Linked DNA regions of Homo sapiens: region 2 is linked to region 1. The links come from fine-mapping of genetic effects on gene expression. A gene starts in region 1. The other region holds a variant in brackets. All regions are shown on one strand. Distances are from middle to middle. Region 1 holds the start of OCLN (occludin). Region 2 has its middle 28 kb from the start of OCLN.

Evidence for each region.
Region 2: its variant is fine-mapped to the expression of OCLN in whole blood (TOPMed, PIP 0.93).

Annotation. Positions count from the first base shown.
Region 1 is chr5:69,488,687-69,496,954 of GRCh38, forward strand. It overlaps OCLN (occludin), which reads left to right and starts at 4,104. Exons shown (of 9, transcript NM_001205254.2): 1 at 4,104-4,214.
Region 2 is chr5:69,460,491-69,468,911 of GRCh38, forward strand. No RefSeq gene overlaps it. Among named protein-coding and RNA genes, the nearest start is that of OCLN, 28 kb to the right of the region's middle. RefSeq lists a silencer at 2,090-2,258. The variant G/A (reference allele first, on the strand shown) is at 4,502.

The DNA.
Region 1 (8,268 bases):
AAGGCGTTAGTATCACCTGAGGTCAGGAGTTCGAGACCAGCCTGACCAACAAGGTGAAATCCCATCTCTACTGAAAATACAAAAATTAGCCAGGCGTGGTGGCAGGTGCCTGTAGTCCCAACTATTCAGGAGGCTGACATAGGAGAATCATTTGAACCCAGGAGGCGGAGGTTGCAGAGAGCTGATCACACCATTGCACTCCAGCCTGGGCTACGGAGGAGACTCTGTTTCAAAACAAACAAACAGAAAACCAAAAAAACACTTAGCATAGTACTTAGAACATGTTTTTCCCTGAGTAAATGGTGCTATTATTATTCTTCCACCTGTTGAAGTTCCTGTTCAGGTGCTGAGTCTCTTTGTTTAAATATGGATTCCTCCCAGGAGGATCTTGCTTAACACATAGGAATAGAGAAGATAAAGGTTTACTCATCTAGTGTAATCATCCTTTTAGAAATTGTCTTCCTAGTGGCTTCCCCATAAATTCTTCCATACACCTGTCCAAGGAAACTGTCCTGTGTGGACCAGAAGCCTCCCCCTCCTCATGACTGGGCAGAGAAACTAGAGGCCTTTCAGGCCAGGCCCTCAGCAACTCCAAACTGAGTTGCCTTGGACACATACCAGTCTTTGAATTCATTTACTAAGCAGGCAAGGCAGAGTGGAAACAGTGGAACTATGTTAATCTCCCGTCTTTTCTCCTCTAAACCCTAGTACTAGAGATGTAAGCCTTGAAATGCTACTAAGGAACGTGCGGGTTTCACAATAGCAGGAGGCCATCTGAGAGGAGGACAAGACTCCACAGGCATGTTGGATTTGGGAAGCAGGGCTATAGTCATTCATTCATTCATCCAACACATAGTTATGTAATTCCTATGTGACAGGAACTATTTCAGGCATATAGGATACAGCAATGGCTTGCTCAATTTATTGAGACTTGTTTCGTGGCTCAGCATATAGTCTGTCTTGGTGAATGCTCCACATTCCCACCAACAGACTTATAAAGACAGTATTGTTTATTATCATCTCAAATTTACGGTGGAAAAAAATGAACCTTACATAGTTTAATTTCCTTTAGTCCTACCCAGCTACCAAGTAGCAACACTGGAATTTGAACTGAGATTTCTGACACCATAATCTGAGCTCTTAAGTTTCTCTTTTACACATAGAAAAGGAGAAACAAATTGTCTTTTCATCTTATCCATTTGACTGCAGGTAAAGTCAACAAGTTTCTAATCATGGGGTTCTGAAAATAATATTTACATTGCTCTGAGTCACGGGGATTTTCATCAAATAATATTCAATAGTGGATACTACTCAATACTACTGTGAGTTGCCAAGAAGGAATATTTGGTAAAAAATATAGTAATTAAATTTTGCTATAATTTATGATTATGTAACATGATTAAATTGAGCATGGCATCATTTAACATCCAACAAATTTTGTTTTGGTATTGAAGAATGATGTGTTTAAGTTTTAAGGCTGGATTTTCTTTCTAGACACTTTCAACTATGAAATATACACAATATTGGACAATAGTTAACCGTTCTTTTGATGTTGTTGTTTAGAAAATTAATCTCAAGCGAATAAAATAGAATTCATACAATTAATGAATCCTATTATTCCATATGGATGAACTCAGAACTAACTAGAAAGTAAGTTTCACAGAGATTTTTGAGTTTTGTTCACTCGTGTGTGTACAGATTAGGCACTCAGAAAATAGTTGAAGGAATGAATTGGGAAAGCAAATAGAATATGAAAGCCTTCTACCCAACACAACATGTCTTTGAGTTTAGGTTTAGGGTGGGAATAAGAAAAATAACATGATATGCATAAGTTATCTTAAAATGATAAAAAGTTTAATTTAAAAACCTAATTTACCAAGAGAACCGAAAACATATGTCCACACAAAAACTTGTACACAAATGTTCATAGTAACATTATTCATAACATCCCCAAAGGAGAAACAACCCAAATGTTCATCAACAGATGAATGATTAAACGAAATGTGATACATCGATACAATGGAATATTATTCAGTTATAAAAAGGAATGAAGTACCAATACATACTACATCATGGATGAACCTTTAAAATATTATGCTAAGTGAAAGAAGACAGACACAAAGGGCACATATTGTATTATCCATTCATATAAAATGTCCAGAATAGGCAAATTAATAGAGACAGAAAGTACATTAGTGGTTGCCGAGGGATGAGGGGAGAGGGGAAATGGGGAGTGACTATTAATGGGCATGGGGTTTCTTTTGGGGGCGATTAAAATGGAATTAGATGGTGGTGATGGTTGTACAATCTGGTGAGTATACTAAAACCCACTGAATTGTACGTGCCCTTTAAAAGGGTGAATTTTATGGTATGTGAACTCTCTTTTATAAAGTGGAAAAAAACTCCTAAGATCTCTTCAGAACATGTCAAAATACATTATAAAATAATAGACATGTGTTTACAAATCTGAGAGTATTAGGAAATGTTCCCTTGTTTAATTATAAACCAAATGGAATGTTTGGAGATTTCAGTAATCTGACAGGGAACATTAAGGGGATTAACCTGACTTCCCCAGTGTTAACAATACCAATTTAAACTGCATCATTCAAAAACTACATAGTCATATTAAAGCATTTGTAGCAATGACTTCCACGAAAAAAATACCAATTAAATTAATTACCCATTAAAGCTGCCATCATCTGAAATACCTCATATTTATATAGTGCTTTTACTTCCTCAAGTATGAATTGTGCCTTAAGATCTAATGTATGGGAGAGTCACATCTCTAACCATTTAATTAAAGGTAGAGAAGTGGGTGGGATTGGATAGAAATTTATTAGCAATGCTGACATTCCAGATTGGAACACAAAGACAAGCAGGATGTAAGAAACCTAAAAGTTCGCTTTCAATGCAGATAGTTAAATGCCAAGAACTATAATTGCCACATCCTGGAGTACAATTAAAAAATATGTTGAAAAACAACCAACATACATAAAAATATACACAGTGTTAAGTGCAGACTATGAAATTTCCCTTGGAAACAGAATCCAGATCAAGAAATAGAATACAGCACCCGGAACTAAGGTGCTTTTTCGTTTTCTTAAAAAAAAAAAAAAAGTAAACCAAGTTTATTTTGCTTTTTAAGTAGTGTTGTTCTTAAAGCACTACAGGTTGGTAAACAACGTATAAGGTGCTTTTTCTCAGGCCAAAGAGCCATAATAGTTTAAATTTCCCGGTCCTCAAGAGCGGACCGGGTGGGCAGGAGAGGACCCTGGGGTGGTGATGTGTAAACTGTATTATGCACTTTAGCCTGCTGGATGGCAACTAACACCTACAGTAGTTCACCCTCATTTTAACCCCTCTAAGTAATTGTCTCTTATTCTGAATCTAGAGATTCAGAAACAGCGCCAATGTTTACACACGACTTTTGAAATTTTCCCAGGAGTCTTTCGTTGGAGCAATACATCTAGATGCCTTTTTCCAGCAACAGTTTAATCAAATTCTGGAAGCAGAAAAGTGTCCTGTGAGGACGTGCCTTTCCTATCAAAGTGCTGAGTGCCTGGACCCTCTTTCCGGAGGAAACAGTCCCCTCTGGACCTCGTTCGGCCTCTCTCCATCAGACACCCCAAGGTTCCATCCGAAGCAGGCGGAGCACCGAACGCACCCCGGGGTGGTCAGGGACCCCCATCCGTGCTGCCCCCTAGGAGCCCGCGCCTCTCCTCTGCGCCCCGCCTCTCGGGCCGCAACGTCGCGCGGTTCCTTTAACAGCGCGCTGGCAGGGTGTGGGAAGCAGGACCGCGTCCTCCCGCCCCCTCCCATCCGAGTTTCAGGTGAATTGGTCACCGAGGGAGGAGGCCGACACACCACACCTACACTCCCGCGTCCACCTCTCCCTCCCTGCTTCCTCTGGCGGAGGCGGCAGGAACCGAGAGCCAGGTCCAGAGCGCCGAGGAGCCGGTCTAGGACGCAGCAGGTGGGACTCGCGGCGCTGGCCCGCAGGCTTCCCGCACCCCCTTCCACGTTGGTGCGCATGCCCGGGGGCAGGGCCGGTTGTAGGGAGGAGGGAAAGGAGAGGGAGAAGGGGGAGGAGACGTCCCCAGCCCAGTCCCCGGCTGAGCGCTGGCGGTCGGTGCGGCGTCAGGTGCGCCCGCCAGGTGAGCGCGCTCCCTGGCACCGTTGGCCCCCGGAGGGTCGGGCCCAGTTGCGGCGAGCGGGTGAGTGTTGGGCGCGGCGTCAGGGGCGCACGGGAGCCCGAGGGTCCCCGTGGGGGGACCGCGGCGACTATGTTAGGGGAGGTGCCGGGGGGAGGACGCTCCGCGCTGGTTTCGGTGGCAGTTTCGTCCCCGAGCTGGGACTCGTGGGAACCAGAGAGGCGCGGGTCTGCGGAGAGAGCAGCACCGGCCAACTTGGGAGGCTGCCTCCTGGGGCGAGGGGTGGCTTGGAGCCGCCGATCAAGCTTTATTCCGCGGAAACGCTGAAAGCTAGCAGTGCCTCAGCGGCGCGGGCAACTTTTCACTTTTATGGGGCACGACATTCCTGAACAGCGACGATCCTGCATCCGCTCTGGGGCTGCAGTTTGGGGGGGCGGCCTTCATGGAGAGGGATCCTGCGCCCAGCTCCTTGGGGGTCCTAAGCCTGAGGCTGCAGCGAGGCGGCTGTTCGGCGGCCCGGGCGGCTTAGATCCCGGGGGGAATTTCATTCCTTCCGCTCCCACCCCACCCCTTTGGATATCCCGGGGAGACGGGGGCTGGATTCAATCTGTGAAATATTCCAGGAGTCACGGTGTGGGCCACACTGGCTACTTCGAATCCACTTGTTGCGAGTTGTGTGAACCCGCGTCGATTTAAGCTGGGGGGCGGGGAGTTAATTTCGAGTGAGGCTGGACTTCGAGGGAAGCTGCTCACGCTTCGGATTCTCATCCGTGACCAAAAGGGCTGCCCCCAGGGGGGCGGAACTGCCTCCGGGCGGTGCCTGCCCGGCGAACGTGGGCGCGCGCTGCCTGGGAGCGCCTCGGTGCGCACGGAAGCCGGGACCCGCGCCCAGCCGGGCCACGGAGTTTGGGGACCTCCGGGACTGGGCCGGCCCCGCGCGCCAGCCATGTTGCCTGCGTCGGAGGAAGCGTGCGGGGAGCAGGGGTCGAGGGCCAAGATGGCCTCTGCGCCTAGGGGTTGGGAGCGGCGCCGAGCCCCTCGCGCTCCTCGGGAAGCCACCGGGCCCGAGGGAAAAGCCGCGGCATCCTTAGGCCGGACCCGGGGCTCGCTGGCCACACTGCCCGCTTGGGGAATTACCCTGCTCGAGGAGGAGGCGGCGGCTTTCCAGGCCAGTCAGTGTGTGGCCCTTAGGCAACAGGTGTATTATTGGGATACCTGGAAAAGAGAAACGTTTCCCATGAAGGCACTTATGGTGTTTTTTGGTGATTCTTGGTGTGATAGAAAACTAGGCGTTCCCAAGTGTAACAATAGTAACAGTAGTTCTTTTGCACTGTACATATGAGGTGCTTGTGTGTGTGTGTGTGTGTGTTTTTCCGAGACGGAGTCTGGCTCTGTCCCCCAGTGCAGTGGCATCATCTGGGCTCACTGCAACCTCTGCCTCCCGGGTTCAAGCGATTCTCCTGCTCAGCCTCCCGAATAGCTGGGATTACAGGCACCCACTAGTATGCACAGCTAATTTTTGTATTTTTAGTAGAGACAGGGTTTTGCCATTTGGTCAGGCTGGTCTCGAACTCCTGACCTCAGGTGATTCGCCCGCCTTGGCCTCCCAAAGTGCTGGGATTACAGGCGTAAGCCACCACACCCAGCCTTTATGAATATTTTCTTAGTGGTGCTTTAAAATAGACATCTTAAGTGTGTGTGGGAGGCAGAGATATTTCCTCAAACAAAGCAACACTTTTTTTTTGGTCGTTTTGCAATTTATTTAGTTATTAGGGGCCTCCTTTGTTAGGTGACGGAGCAGAGGATAGGGAGATCGGTAAGACATGATTCTCCACCTTTTGGCAGTTTCCAGGCCATTTCGGGAAATAGTGGGCAGCAGTGCCTCCTGCACGTGAGGCACTGTGGTAAAAGCATTCTGTATTTTCTCATTTAATTATCCCAACAACTCTAAAAGGCAGGCCTTAGTAGAACTCCATTTTAAAAGTGGGCAAATGCCGTGGGGGAAACGTTGCAGGTGGGCTTGCTTGCAAACTGCTTCAGCTAATATGGGAAGGAGTATCAGAAGCAGCGGTCCTTGATATTCCAGAACCAGATTTGGGGAATTTTTCTGGACTTTTCTACCATTGACTAGTAACTGTAGCCTGATACAAGATTTCCCGCATTTTGCTTGATATCAAGGTAAAATTCTTGTTTTCTTCTAAAGGTAGTGTTGGAATTACTACCTTTTCAAAATAGTATATTACTTTTAACCACATAAATGATCTGATGTAATATCTTTCATCTTCCTAGGAACCTCCCAGAAGGAAGTTTTCTTCAGTTGCATTTTAAGGCTTATTTGATTGGAATATTAATGGATCTTTTTCATCAAATTACTATTTATGGAAATAAGAGAGTAAACAGACCATGCAGATTTATGTTAGGCTTTTTGTTTTAACCCCTAGGCTTGCCGCTGTTCCGTAACCCAGTGATTCCAGTCTTGGCTGTGGTATGAATCACTTAGGGATCCTATTAAAACACAGATTCTGATTGGGAGGTCAGGAGTGGGGCCTGGGATTCTGCCTTTCTAACAGGCTCACAGGTGATTCTCAGACTGTTCTGTCTTCTTTTTCTCCCTTTCTCTTAGACTCTACGCACTTAATTACATTTGACAAACTGAAGTTGGAAAAAATAACGTTTATTGAGTGTTGTGTGAAGAACTTCAAGGCATTCACTGCTGGATTGAAATCCCAACTCTAATAATTGACTGTTGGTTTTATTAATTGAGTACTCATTGACAATCACTTTGTGCCAGGGCTAGTTCCAGCGACCAGGGATATAAATGATGGTCAAAATAGACATTTGATGTCTGGGATATGGGCATTCCAGATGCGGTGGAGATGATACCTATATTTTAGGTATGAGGGCAGAGGGGAGTTTGCTCTGAAAAAAAAAACAAGTTTTGTGTGATGGAGTGAGGGACAGGGAGGGCATCTCCCAGAAGGTGACGTCTGAGCTGAGACCTGAACAGCAGGTGTCTGTTGTGTAAAAGATCTGGGCTTTCTAGACAGGAAATTGCAAGATCAATGTCCTTTTTGGATTGACACCTTTATTGTAGACAGCAATTCTCAAAATATGTGATGTGTTTAAAAATCACCTGGAAGATTTATTAAAAATACAATTTCTGACACAGAGTCTATTACAAAATCTGCCTAACTTCAAATTTTTAGACAATTTACTAATGATGTGCCTGTAGTCTAAATCATTTAATATAAGGCACAACTTAAACTTTTTTTTTTTTTTTTGAGACAGAGTCTCGCTGTCTCCCAGGCTGGAGTGCAGTGGCACGATCTTGGCTTACTGCAAGCTCCGCCTCCCGGGTTCACACCATTCTCCTGCCTCGGCCTCCCGAGTAGTTGGGACTACAGGCGCCTGCCACCATGCCCAGCTAATTTTTTGTATTTTTAATAGAGGCGGGGTTTCACTGTGTTAGCGGGGATGGTCTCGATCTCCTGACCTCGTGATCCTCCCGTCTCGGCCCCCCAAAGTGCTGGGATTACAGGCGTGAGCCACCGCGCCCGGCCACAACTTAAACTTTTTAAAGGCAAATTGACAGTTACTGCATGTGCTCTAAAAGGAACAGACTTCTCTTAAATACAATAAAGTTTATTTTTCACTTATTGACAGTTTTCTTTAAAGAATAATTTGAGGCCAAAGCATTTTCAGACTATTTTTTCTTTTTTTATACTTTTTTTTTTTTTTTTTTTTTAAGATAGATAACGGAGTCTTACTCTGTTGCCCAGCCTGATCTTGAAGTTCTGGGCTCAAACAATCCCTCTGCCTTGGCTTCCCAAAGTACTGGGATTACAAGTGTGAGCCACCTTGCCCAGCCTCAGCCTGTTTTTTTCATCTTAGCTTAGTTTTCCATTAAGACAGCTTTTGGTCAGTAAACATTGTCAAGGGGAGAACACTTTATATTTTATCATTAGCCCAAGATGCTGGTTTTCAGATTAACATATTTGACAAGGATCTATCTGCTGCTTCCCTTTTGCCCCCGACTCTAATTTAGCTGTCTGACTTCTGTCCTTGTCACTCTCCTGACATAAGTTCCTGTAGGTGATAAGTGGCCTCTTCATTCTCA
Region 2 (8,421 bases), 28 kb before region 1:
TTAGCAATATGGATATAGAAGAATCCTATTAGAATATCAAACCGGCTGGGCGTGGTGGCTTACACCCGTAATCCCAACATTTTGGGAGGCCGAGGCGGGCCGACCACCTGAGGTCAGGAGTTCGAGACCAGCCTGGTGGTGGGCGCCTGTCATTCTAGCTACTCAGGAGGCTGAGGAAGGAGAATCTCTTGAACCCAGGAGGCAGAGGTTGCAGTGAGCTGAGATCACATCACTGAACTCCAGTCTGGGAGACAGAGCAAGAGTCCGTCTCAAAAAAAAAAAAAAAAAGAATAACAAACTAACACATCTTGAAGTCGAATTCCTTGAAAATTATGGCCTAGAAAGCCTACTTGGCTGGGCCTGATGCTCACGCCTATAATCCCAGCACTTTGGAAGCCGAGGCAGGTGGATCACCTGAGGTCAGGAGTTTGAGACCAGCCTGACCAACATGGAGAAACCCCATCTCTATAAAAATACAAAAATTAACTGGGCGTGGTGGCACGCACCTGTAATCCCAGCTACTCAGGAGGCTGAGGCGGGAGAATCGCTTAAACCTGGGAGGCGGAGGTTGCAGTGAGCCGAGATCATGCTATTGTACTCCAGACTGGGCAACAGAGCGAGACTCCGTGTCAAAAAAAAAATGCTCATGCAAATGAGCATCACAAAAATTATACAGTTGGCTAAAGGAAACACCAAATTGATAATAATGAAGCTAAACTAATAATTGACATTTTAAAGGAAAGACTAAGCCAAGCTAATACCTAACGAGCTGTCTGAGTCAACACATAAAGTACTGATAACATACCTATCTAACTAGAAAATTGAGGAATCCCAAGGATGTAGGTATTTGCATAGTGGGAGCTTCACATAGTTACCAGCAATTCAACTTTTCAACTTTTCTTTCCTTTTTTTGAGACGGTGTCTCACTCTGTTGCCCAGACTGGAGTGCAGTGGCATGATCTCAGCTCACTGTAACCTCCACCTCCTAGGTTCAAGCAATTCTCCTGCCTCAGCCTCCCGAGTAGCTGGGATTCCAGGCGCCCGCCACCACACCCGGCTAATTTTTGTATTTTTAGTAGAGACAGGGTTTCACCATGTTGGTCAGGCTGGTCTTGAACTTCTGACCTCAAGTGATCTGCCCACCTCGGCCTCCCAAAGTGCTAGGATTTCAGGCATGAGCCACCACACCCGGCCAGCTCAACTTTTCAGTACAATGCCAAATCAATTCCTCTGTCAACTTAAGTGCTAATACCCCAGGGTTTTAGTTTTTGTTTTTGTCTTAGAAACGGGGTCTTACTATGTTGTCCAGGCTGGTCTTGAACTCCTGGGCTCAAGTGATCTTCCCAGCTTGGCCTCCCAAAGTGCTGGGATTGCAGGCATGAGCCACCACAGCCGGCCTAATACCCTAGGTGTTGGATAGCAAAGACATGTTATCCTTAGTAACTCCTGAAGAAAGTTACTAGGAGTCCTTAGTGCAATATAAAAATTTACTTACAGAAAAGAAAAAACTGCTGCATTGGTTCATAAGAACCAAGGAAAGCACTTCCAATTTGGAATCAGTGGGCTGCCCCTTGGGAGGTGCACTCGGAGAACATAAAGCTAACCCCGAGAAGGATGAGGGAGGTGCGTCCTCCAAGATTTTGAAATCTGAGTGTACAATGTGAGGAGAGGGAGCAGAGGTTGTAAGAGGAGAGGGATGACTCCACAGATCCTTTGAGAGAGAGGAAAGTGATCTACATTTTCTCAGCAAAAGCAGAGCTATCTTCAGCCAAGTTAGAAAGACTGTGAGGACCAGGGCAGTTTGAGATTTATGAAGTGCCCTTTAAAATTTTTAATTTTTTTAAATTTTTATTTATTTATTTATTAAAATTTAAAATTAAACAATTTAAAAACTTTTAAATTTTAAAAATTTAAAAAGTATTTTTGGCTCTTGAGGAATTTTCTGCTGCATTAAAGACAAGGGAATATTTACATTTAAATAACAACTCAAGAAATACTAAGGCAGGGCACAGTGGCTCACATCTGTAATTCCTGCATTTATGGGAGGCCAAGGCAGGAGTTTCGCTTGAGCCAAGAGCTTGAGACCAGTGTGGACAACAGAGCAAGACCTGGCTCTACAAAAAATGTTTTAAAAATATTAGCCAGAGGCCGGGCGCAGTGGCTCACGCCTGTAATCCCAGCACTTTGGGAGGCTGAGGCGGGTAGATCACAAGGTCAGGAGTTCAAGACCAGCCTGACCAACATGGTGGAACCCCATCTCTACTAAAAATACAAAAATTAGCTGGGCGTGGTGGCGTGCACCTGTAATCCCAGCTACTTGGGAAGCTGAGACAGAAAAATCGCTTGAACCCGGGAGGCGGAGGTTGCAGTGAGCCGAGATGGCACCACTGCACTCCAGCCTGGGCAACAAAGCAAGACTCCATCTCAAAAATATATATATATATGAAATATATAATATATATAATATATTATATGAATATATAATATATATATTATATGAAATATATAATATATATATTATATGAATATATAATACATATACTATATTATATGAAATATATAATACATATACTATATTATATGAATATATAATACATATACTGTATTATATGAATATATAATACATATACTGTATTATATGAATATATAATACATATACTGTATTATATGAATATATAATACATATACTGTATTATATGAATATATAATACATATACTATATGAATATATAATACATATACTATATTATATGAATATATAATACATATACTATATTATATGAATATATAATACATATACTATATTATATGAATATATAATACATATACTATATTATATGAATATATAATACATATACTATATTATATGAATATATAATACATATACTATATTATATGAATATATAATACATATACTATATTATATGAATATATAATACATATACTATATTATATGAATATATAATACATATACTATAGTATATGAATATATAATACATATACTATAGTATATGAATATATAATACATATACTATAGTATATGTATATAATACATATACTATAGTATATGTATTATATATTCATATAATATATTATATATATATTCATATAATATATTATATGTATATAATACATATATTATATGTATATAATACATATATTATATGTATATAATACATATATTAGATGTATATAATACATATATTAGATGTATATAATACATATATTAGATGTATATAATACATATATTAGATGTATATAATACATATATTAGATGTATATAATACATCTAATATATTAGATGTATATAATACATATAATATATTAGATGTATATAATACATATAATATATTAGATGTATATATTAGCCAGATGTGGTGGAGCAAGCCTGTAGTCCCAGCTACTCTGGAGGCTGAGGCAGGAGGCAGAAGGATCACTTGAGCCCAGGAGTTCCAGGTTGCAGTGAGCCATGATCTCACCACTGCCCTCCAGCCTGGGCAACAGAGCAAGATCCTGTGAAAGAAAGAGAGAAAGAGAGAGAGAGACAGAATGAGAAAGAGAAGGAAGTACTATACTTTTACATGTATATAGTCCTTAGTCCTTATCATTTTTTTTTTTTTAAGATGGAGTCTTGCTCTGTCACCCAGGCTGGAGTGCAGTGGCACAATCTCGGCTCACTGCAACCTCCACCTCCCAGTTTCAAGTGATTCTCCTGCCTCAGCCTCCCGAGTAGCTGGGACTACAGTTGCCCACCACCATGCCTGGCTAAGTTTTTGTATTTTTAGTAGAGACGAGGTTTCACCATGTTGGTCAGGATGGTCTCGATCTCTTGACCTCGTGGTCCACCCGGCTTGGCCTCCCAAAGTGCTGGGATTACAGGCGTGAGCCACCGCTCCCGGCCCTATCCTTTCTTAAATACTTTCACATAACTCATCTCAGGATTGACAGACCTTGATAGCGCCTTAAATCCTGGAGAGAGAGAATTCTGAAGAGGCTACAATAGGATGGAATAGTCAGAACATTTTTGAAAAAAAACAGGTAAGACTGCAACCAGGCATGGTGGTTCATGCCTGTAATACCAGCATTTTGGGAGAACAAGGCGGGAGGATCACTGTAACCCAGGAGTTCAAGGCTGTGGTGAGCTATGATCACACCACGGCCCTCTAGCCTGGGTGACAGAGTCAGACTCCGTCTCTAAAAAAATAAAAATAAGGCCAAGGCGGGCGGATCATCTGAGGTCGGGAGTTCAAGACCAGCCTGACCAACATGGAGAAACCCTGTCTCTACTAAAAATACAAAATTAGCTGGGTGTGGTGACGCATGCCTGTAATCCCAGCTACTCGGGAGGCTGAGGCAGGAGAATTGCTTGAACCCGGGAGGCAGAGGTTGCGGTGAGCCGAGATCACGCCATTGCACTCCAGCTTGGGCAACAAGAGCATAACTCTGTCTCAAAAATAAATAAATATTAAAAAATAAAAATAGGCCGGGGTGCAGTGGCTCAC[G/A]CCTGTAATCTCAGCACTTTGGGAGGCCAAGGTGGGTGGATCACGTGAGGTCAAGAGTTCAAGACCAGCCTTCCCAACATGGTGAAACCCTGTCTCTACTAAAAATACAAAAATTAGCCAGGTGTGGTGGCGTGCCCCTGTAATCCCAGCTACTCAGGTAGCTTAGGTGGGAGAATTGCTTGAACCCAGGAGGTGGAGGCTGCAGTGATCCGAGATCTTGCCGCTGCACTCCAGCCTGGGTGACAGAGCAAGACCCCATCAAAAAATAATAATAAATAATAATAAATAAAAATAAAGGTAAACAAATATCTCATTTAAGTTTACTCTGTTACCTAATATATTAGAAAGTCTTATCTTAAAGTTTTGTTGTCTTGAATCTTTTCTGTGGGGTCATAATTAAAATAAATCTTCCAACCCCTAAGTAAGTTCATATCTCCTATTGTTCAGGTAAGATAATTTTGAAGTCAACAGATTGTTGCTCTCTTACCTGACACAGCTGGGATCAGTAATTAGAATGTCAATTCAAAAAAGTAGATTAAAGCTAAACATCAAAAAGTGACATATGGGTGCCATAGTTTGTCTTAATTTTTTTTCATTTTTCATTTTTCATTAATTAATTTTTTTTAGAGACAGAGTCTCGCTCTGTTACCCAGGTTGGAGTGCAGTGGTGTGAACACGGCTCACTGCAGCCTTGACCTTGTGGGATTAAGTGATCCTCCCACCTCAGGATCCTGAGTAGCTAGGACCACAGGTGTGTGCCACCACGCCTGGCTAATTTTTAATTTTTTCATAGAGAGGGGGTCTTGCCATGCTGCCCAGGCTGGTCTCAAACTCCTGGGCTCACAGGATCCTCCAGCCTCAGCCTCCGAAAGTGTTGGGATTACAGGCGTGAGCCACCCTACCTAGCCAACATTTTTTTTTTCTAAAGCAACATCATTATGAGTCTTTTAACAATTAACTTGATTTTTATAGAAATACCTTTTTGTTTGTTTGTTTGTTTGTTTGGGACAGAGTCTCACTACGTCGCCCAGGCTGGAGTGCAATGGTGCGATCATAGCTCACTGTAACCTCTCCCTCCCAGGTTCAAAAGATTCTCCTGCTTCAGCTTCCTGAGTAGCTGGAATTACAGGTGCATGCCACCACACCTGACTAATTTTTGTATTTTTAGTAGAGACAGGATTTCATCATGTTGGCCTGGCTTGTCTCAAACTCCTGACCTCGTGATGCACCCACCTCCACCTCCCAAAGTGCTGGGATTACAGACATGAGCCACCGTGCCCAGCCTAGAAACACCTTTCTGTTGGGGTCATCATATTTTATTTTATGTTATTTGTGTGGTTTTTGTTTGTTTGTTTTTATGGCAGGGTCTCACTCTGTAGCCCAGGCTGGAATGCAGTGGCATTGAGAATTGAAGCCAGCTGGGCTTCTGGGTTGGGTGGGAACTTGGAGAACTTTTCTGTCTAGCTAGAGGATTGTAAACACACCAATCAGCACTCTGTGTCTAGCTAAAGGTTTGTAAACACACCAATCAGTACTCTAAATATGCACCAATCAGCGCTCTGTGTCTAGCTAAAGGTTTGTAAATGCACCAATCAACACTCTGTAAAAATGCACCAATCAGTGCTCTGTGACTAGCTAAAGGTTTGTAAACACACCAATCAGCACTCTGTAAAAATGGACCAATCAGCACTCTGTAAAATGGACCAATTAGCACTCTGTAAAATGGACCAATCAGCAGGACGTTGGCAGGGCCAAATAAGGGAATAAAAGCTGGCCACCGGAGCCAGCAGCAGCAACCAGTTCGGGTCCCCTTCCAGGCTGTGGAAGGTTTGTTCTTTTGCTCTTCACAATAAATCTTGCTGCTGCTCCCTCTGGGTCCGCACTACCTTTATGAGTTGTAACACTCACTGCGAAGGTCTGCAGCTTTGCTCCTGAAATCAGTGAGACCACGAACCCACCGGGAGGAACAAACAACGCTGGATGCGCCACATTTAAGAGCTGTAACACTCACTGCGAAGGTCTGCAGCTTCACTCCTGAAGTCAAGCTAGACCACGAGCCCACCGGAAGGAAGAAACTCTGGACATATCTGAACATCTGAAGGAACAAACTCCGGACACACTACGTGTAAGAACTGTAACACTCACCACGAGGGTCTGCAGCTTCATTCTTGAAGTTAGCGAGACCAAGAATCCACCGTAAGGAACCAATTCCGGACACAGCATGATCTCAGCTCACTGCAACCTCCACTTCCCAGGTTCAAGTGATTCTCCTGCCTCAGCCTCCTGAGTAGCTGGGTTTACAGGTGCATACGATCATGCCTGACTAATTTTTGTGTTTTTGGTAGAGACGGGGTTTCACCATGTTGGCCAGGCTGGTTTTGAACTGCTGACCTCAGGTGATCCACCCACTTTGGCCTATCCAAGTACTGGGATTATAGGCCTGAGCCACAGCAGCTGGCCCGCATCATATTTTATCATTTAAATAATATTTAATTAAATCATACACATACGTACACACATGTAGTAGCAAGTACAAGTGGGAATAACAGGTTTAGGTACAACACAACTATTGCTAACCACCCATCTCCACTATTGAGAGCAGAAGTAGTGTTCTCTAGAAACAGGCCTTCTAGGGTGCTGAGGTCATCATAAGATGCTTAAACTGAGCTTGTATGTTTCAGAATTAGCTGATATTTTTTAAATGGTCTCTTATTAAGTAAATAACTATCAAATTTCATAAGATATGAATTTGAGGACTGAAACTGTATTAGTCAGAACGGCTTTGGTTTCTAATAACAGAAACTCAAATCAGCTTATGCATACAAGGGACTCTTTTGAATTAGAGAACTGAGAAGTTTAGGAGCTGACTTGGCTTCAGGGTTCCCTTTCAGTCTGTTTCTCTCATCTTCACTGCTTCTCACAGCATATTTAGTCTCATGCTGTCATGTTTAGACTTTCTCTGTGTAACTGCGGAAGATGCCTGGTGTCAGCTCCAGTACATAAGCACGTAGTGGGTTACAGGGAAGTGGCTCTCTTCCAGCAGCTTTCTATCATGTCTCTGGAAGCGTCTGATAGGTCTTGGTTTGGGTTATGTGTCCATCTTTGAACCTATCACCACATCAGATGAGGCAGCCTGGATCTCATATCCGCTAATGTGTGGGCAGAACACAATCCCGTCAGGACCTCATGGAATGGAAGAAAGATAAGGTTTTTTTTTCTTTTTCTTTTTCTTTTTTTTTTTTTGAGATGGAGTCTCACTCTGTTGCCTAGGCTGGAGTGCAGTGGTGCGATCTTGGCTCACTGCAATCTCTGCCTCCCGGGTTCACGCCATTCTCCTGCCTCAGCCTCCAGAGTAGCTGGGACTACAGGCGCCTGGCACCACGCCTGGCTAATTTTTTTGTATTTTTAGTAGAGACGAGGTTTCACCGTGTTAGCCAGGATGGTCTTGATCTCCTGACCTCGTGATGCACCCACTTGACCTCCCAAAGTGCTGGGATTACAGGCATGAGCCACTGCGCTGGGCTGAAGAAGGGTGAGTTATAAATGAAAAGCTGCATGTGTGCTCTAATAGAAGCTAGACATGCAAAAACCACAGATGCCTCCAGCATAGACCATGCTTTTGTTACCATAATAGCAGGTATTCAGTCTAAGTCCTGCTCCTCATAGCACAGAAAACCAATCACTGAGACAATGAGTATTGCCAAGGAAGAAAGCTTTAATTGGGTGCTGCAGCTGAAGACATGGGAACTAGTCTCAAATTCATCTCCTGACTGACTATAATTAGGGGTTAATCTAGCAGGGAAGAAATGTAACTATGCATGGGAAAACAGGAACTCAACTTGAGAGGGGTAAGGAAGCAATCATGATGAATGAAGGGCCTGGTGTCTCATTGTCTGGATGCAACGATCTGGTGAGTTTCA